2 separate regions of the Homo sapiens genome follow, and region 1 is linked to region 2. The links come from fine-mapping of genetic effects on gene expression. A gene starts in region 2. The other region holds a variant in brackets. All regions are shown on one strand. Distances are from middle to middle.

Region 1 (2,898 bases), 260 kb before region 2:
GGCGCCCGCTGCTTGTTTTCCCACCCACGCTGGCAGGGAGCCCAGCCCAGCCGGGCCACTGTTCAGGAATCCTCCAGCCTCCCCGCTCCAGCCACCAGGCGCGGCCACCGCCAGCCTCTCCTCCCAGCACATTCTGTCCCAAGCAAAGAGCGCCAGAGATGGGGTGGGGGTGGGGGTGGGAGGGGGACGCATTCCTGCTGAGCTCCAGTTACAGGACAGCTTGTCCTGGTGGCCCCACCAGCACAACCTCCTGATGGCTCCCCATCCTGCTGTGGGGTTAGACCTTCCTGAATGAAGCCAAAGCCCCTCTGCCAGTTCGTGCCCACCTCAGGGCCTTTGCACCAGCCATACCTTCCACCTGGCACTCTGTCTCCCTAGATCTCCCCAAGACCTCCTCCGCCTGCACATCTGAGACCTCACATCACCTTCTCAGCAAGTCCCCTCTGTCCCTAGGCCCGGGCACCCCAAATTCCCCTCCTGCTGCCCCAGTGCATTTAATTTCCTGGTCCTCCCCATGTCCCTGGGGTTACATATTCACTTGTTTGTTGATGTGGTGTCTATTACACCAGGTCCCCACTGTGTCCCAGCACCCTGAACACACAGTAGGTGGCTTAGTGAAGGTTTTTACAATTGACATCTATTCCTCCCAAAGCTCAGCCCGCCCAGGCTCATCCATGTGGATCCACAGTTCTGACCACCCCACCTCTGCCTCACCCTGCCTCCGCCACCCCTGCACCCTAATGCAGCAGGATTTCCCAAGCCCCCCTGCCTTGGCCCAGGGAGTTATCTCCACCAGATCCACCTTTCTGAGCGAGGAGCTGGGTGCATTGAGGGGCAGGGGCGGCTGGAGTTCAGATGCACCTTTTGAGCGAGGGGCTGGGCCTCTCTGTCGCTGGGCTCCAGGCACAGGGCAGTCATGATGTACACACACACGTGCAAACACACACGCACACACATAAGCCTGTCAGCAACATAGAAACACCAGCCAGTGAACTCGGGCACAAGCAGCCGGGCACAGAGTGTTCACCAGGTGCTCACATGTGGAGTACCCCAACTCCTAGGAGGATGCGGTTATGGCCTGGATCCTACAGGTGGGGCCCAGACATGGGCTTTGAACCCACGCCAGGGTATGCACAAACCTATCCAAACACACGCGTGTCTGCCCTAGCTTCCCTCACCCGGGAGTCACCCCCCCACCCCCCACCTTGTTTTTGATGTTCAGGAAAGTCCCCAGAAAGCACTGGGCCCGGGCAAGGGGCCAGGAGGAAATGGTGACTCAGCCGGTGGCCATCAGTGCCTGCCACGCTGGGCTGGGTGGACTGCGCGGCCCGATCTGGGAGGATCCACAGAAAACAACAATAAAAGATGAGGGCGTGGGTGCGGGGTAAAAAGGACTCAGCCCAAGAATGATCAGAGAGG[G/C]GATGGATCCCCCTGTGCTCCAACACTTCAACCCTGCTGGGCCTGATTGACAAGTGGGGAAACTGAGACACAGGGAACAAGTGACTTCGCCAAGGCCCACCAGCCAAGATGGTACAGGCAAGGGGATCCCTAAGTCCTTAACACAGGGGTCTGGAGGAATGTCTACCTGCCCTGCCCTTTTTTTTTTTTTTTTTTTTGGAGACAGGGTCTCACTCTGTCCGTCAGGCTGGAATGCAGTGGCATGATCTCAGCTGACTGCAATCTCCGCCTCCTGCCTCAGCCTCCCAAGTAGCTGGGATTACCGGCGCCTGTCCCTATGCCCAGGTAATTTTTGTATTTTTAGTAGAGATGGGGTTTCACCATGTTGGCCAGGCTGGTCTCAAACTCCTGACCTCAGGTGATCTGCCCACCTCGGCCTGCCAAAGTGCTGGGATTACAGGCGTGAGCCACAGTGCCCGGCTCCCTGCCCCACTTTCTGAGACCCAGATCCACTTCCTGGTTTCCTGTGTGGTCATGTGACCACACTTGGCCAATTGGAGCCTTTTGTTATCACAGGCACAGGGATTGGGTCAGGGCTGGGCACGTGATCCTGCCTGAGCCAATCATGCTACGAGTTTGGAGACTCCCTGGAAGAAGGCCTAGAAGTAAGGAAAACCATCTTGGACGCATGATGATGGCAGTGGATCAGAGTCCCAAGGACACTGGTGAAGATCAGAGCAGGACTCACACAACCTCAGATCCCTGTGGAGTCAGGGTGGAACCAGAGGGAAGGCTGAAGGCTGGAGGGTCCTGAGAGGCCTTGCAGAAAGAGAGGACATTGGAGCTGGGGCTTTGATGGATGAAGAGGAACTAGGGAAAGGCATTTCAAGCAGAGGGAACAGCCTGTGCAACCACAGCAGGCAGGTGGGAGCTAGGCGTGTCCTCAGCCACCCCAGTGGCCCCATGGGGCTGGAGCATAGAGAGGCATCTGCAAATGTGTTTATTTGTTTATTGAGACGGAGTTTTGCTCTTGTTGCCCAGGCTGGAGTGCAGTGGCGCAATCTTGGCTCACTGCAACCTCCGCCTCCCGGGTTCAAGCGATTCTCCTGTCTCAGTCTCCTGAGTAGCTGGGATTACAGGCGCACGCCACCACGCCCACCTAATTTTTTGTATTTTTAGTAGAGACGGGGTTTCACCATGTTGGCCAAGCTGATCTTGAACTCCTGACCTCAGGTGATCCACCCGCCTTGGCCTCCCAAAGTGCTGGGATTACAGGCGTGAGCCACTGCGCGTGACTATTTATTTATTTTTTTAGATGGAGTCTCACTCTATTGCCCAGGCTAGAGTGCAGTGGCACGATCTTGGCTCACTGCATCCTCCGCCTCCCAGGTTCAAGTGATTCTTCTGCCTCAGCCTCCTGAGTAGCTGGGATTAAAGGTGCCTGCCACCACGCCCGGCTAATTTTTGTATTTTAATAGAGACGGGGTTTCACCATGTTGG
Region 2 (2,871 bases):
CACTTGGAGGCGGCGATGCGGTTGCGCAGCCGCTTGCGCTCCGCCTTGATGCGCTCCTGCGTGTCCATGTCGATGGGCGACAACGGCGGGCTCTCGCCGAAGCTCGGCACGTCGGGCACCGTCTGTGGCTCGTCCTTGAGCGCAGCCAGGCGCGGCGGCCCCAACGCGCCTGGGGGTGGCGGCGGCGGGAAGGGCACAGGTTCGGCAGCGAAGGCGACCGTCGCGGCGCCCCCCGCGCCCCCGGCGCCGCCCGCGTAGCTGCTCAGGTTCGCGTAGACAGGCGCTTCGGGCGCGGCCGCCGCCGGGGCCAGCTCGCCGGGGGGCGCGGAGCCCGTGGCCGTGCCCGAGGGCCCCCCGGCGGCGGCGGCGGCGGCGGCAGCGGCCGCGCCCGCGCCGAGCTGGTTCTGCTTGTGTAAATCCTCCAGGGCCTTGACGAAGCCCTCGGCGAACTCCTGCTCCTCGCTGGCCGCCACCTTGGGGTAGAGGAACTGTGAGCTCGTCGGCGTGGTGGTGACCAGCCCGTTGGACTGGATGATGAGGCGCTCGAGCTCGGGGGAGGCCAGCTTCAGCAGCCCCAGGTCGGGAGAGGCGAGCAGGCCGTCGGGGGGTGCCGCGCTGGGGGCGCCGTCGGCGCGCAGGGGGGTAGGAGGCGGCGCGGCCGCAGGCTTGAGCGCTGCCGCCACCTGCTCACTCAGGCTCAGCGTCAGCGCGTCCTTCTTCATCATGCTGCCGGCCGCGGCCGTCGGGGGCGCCCCGGGGAACAAGCGGCCCGGGGACGCGAAGCTGCCGCCGCTGCCACTGGCGCCGCCGCCCAGGCCGCTCAGCGCCTCATCGCCGTAGAAGGGTGTTTCCATCCTCCGCCTCCCCCGCCGCGCCGGCCCGGGGGGGAGTGGCCGCGGCCTCCCGGGGGGCCCGCGCCCCCCCGTCCGCTCGGCCCTGCGCCCGCCCCGGCCGCGGCCGCAGCGCCCGGCCCTCCACTGGCGGCGGCTCCTGCGCCGCGCCACTTGTGCGCCCTCTTATAGCCTCGGCTCGGCGCGATGAGCTCACCGCCCCCGTTCGCCATTGGGTGCGGGTGACGTCGCTCATTTGCATGGAGGGGCGGGGCCAAGCCGCCGACGCCCGCCCGGCCGCCGTTGCCCCGGCGACGCGCGGTAAACGCCACAACAGCGCGCTGCCTTGTGGGTTGACGTCATGGGGGCGGCCGCGCGCCCGGGCCGGGTCACCCCGCCCCGGGACCGCTGTGTACGACCGATCTCCCCGGCGCCGCCTCCGCCAAGGCACGTCCCGGGTGGCGTGATGGGCCCGGGCCACCAGGCGCCCGCCCGCCCCGAGGCCCCGCCCCGTGTCCGCGCGTGGGGCCCCGGCCGGGCGGGGGCGGGGGCGGGGGCGGTGCCGGCCTCCGGGGACTGGAGGGGGATGGGGTCCCGCATGGCTAAATAACTCCTTGGCGCCTCCTGCTCTGCTGTGCCGCCAGGGCCTCCCCTAGCGCGCCTTCTGGAGAGGCTTTGTGCGGATACGGGGCTGGAGGCCTGGTGGGGCTGTGTCCGGGGGCTCGCCGGGGGTGTGGGGAGGTCTGCGTTCCTCACCCTCCCTCCTTCCTTCCCTCCCTCCCTCCACCCCGCGTGTGATTGCTCAGGAAGAGACGGGAGGGGAGAGGAGGGTCGCCAGAAGTTGCTGAAAGCGCTTGGATCCTGATCATTTTCACTGAGTGCGTTCTAGAACCAGGAGTCCTACTTCCTGCCTTTACAGATGGGAAACTGGGCTCAGAGAGGTGGAGTGACCATCCCCCGAGAGTTAGCTAGGAGTCACAGCAGGGCCCGGGCTGTGACTAGGCCTGAGCTCTTGTCCACCCTTAGAACCCTAGAACCTGGGAGTCCAGGCCCCTGCGCAGCCCCTTCCTTCCGCCGCCCACGTTTTAACCCCAGGTCTGCCAGGGCTGTGATGTCCTGGGCGAGGGTGCCCAACTCCAGGGGCTGGGCTGATGAGGCAGGAATGCCGGGTATAATTATTACATGCTTGTTACCACTATCATGGCTGTTAGGGCTTAATGAGCCACTATTAAGACTGGCTGGGAAGGGGGTGTGAGGGAGGAGAGATGGACCCACCCCACCAATACTCACAAGGGATCCTTAGGACATCTGGATCTGACCTACAGCCTCTGCATGCACCCCTCCAGCTCCCCACCTCTGTCTGAATGGAGCCCACACCCTCCTTTCCCTGACCTCCTTCCCCTCACTCTCTCTGATCCTTGGCCTCCCAGTTGCAGGACTAATCGTACCTCTGGGCCTTTGCACGTGCTATGCTCTCTGCTTGGTACTCCCTTCCCCCAGTGCAAAGATGTGTCTTCAGGAAGTGCCCCACCCTCAGACTTTACTCCTTTATTGTAGCCTCTGAATCTGCCAGAATGATGGAGTGGACCATAGTCCCTGAAGGTCAGGGACATTGCCTATGCTGAGCCTGCTGACAGGGCCTCGCATAGAATGGATGCTCAGTATTAAAGGTGAATGCGGGGCTGGGTGTGGTGGCTCATGCCTGTAATCCCAGCACTTTGGGAGGCCGAGGCAGGCAGATCACTTGAGGTCAGCAGTTCAAGACCAGACTGGCCGAAATACAAAAATACAAAAAAAAAAAAAAATACGAAAATTAACCGGGTGTGGTGGTGTGCACCTGTAATCCCAGCTACTCAGGAGGCTGAGACATGAGAATCGCTTGAACCCGGGAGGCAGAGGTTGCAGTGAGCTGAGATTGTGCCACTGCACTCCAGCCTGGGAGACAGAGTGAGACTCCAGTCTCAAAAAAAAATAAAAAATAAAGGTGAATGCAACAAAAGGTTGCTTGTGTGGGTGGTCTCTAGCCTCAGTTTGTCTGCCT

Evidence for each region.
Region 1: its variant is fine-mapped to the expression of JUND in whole blood (TOPMed, PIP above 0.99).

Annotation. Positions count from the first base shown.
Region 1 is chr19:18,020,346-18,023,243 of GRCh38, forward strand. No RefSeq gene overlaps it. Among named protein-coding and RNA genes, the nearest start is that of ARRDC2, 14 kb to the left of the region's middle. RefSeq lists enhancers at 1,319-1,368, 1,843-2,392. The variant G/C (reference allele first, on the strand shown) is at 1,420.
Region 2 is chr19:18,280,631-18,283,501 of GRCh38, forward strand. JUND (JunD proto-oncogene, AP-1 transcription factor subunit) reads right to left here and starts at 992. Exons shown (of 1, transcript NM_005354.6): 1 at 1-992. The coding sequence starts at 854. MIR3188 (microRNA 3188) reads left to right here and starts at 1,447; the gene lies at 1,447-1,531. It overlaps LOC124904652 (a long non-coding RNA gene), which reads left to right and starts at 1,462. Exons shown (of 2, transcript XR_007067154.1): 1 at 1,462-2,500. RefSeq lists an enhancer at 126-977 and a silencer at 471-1,470.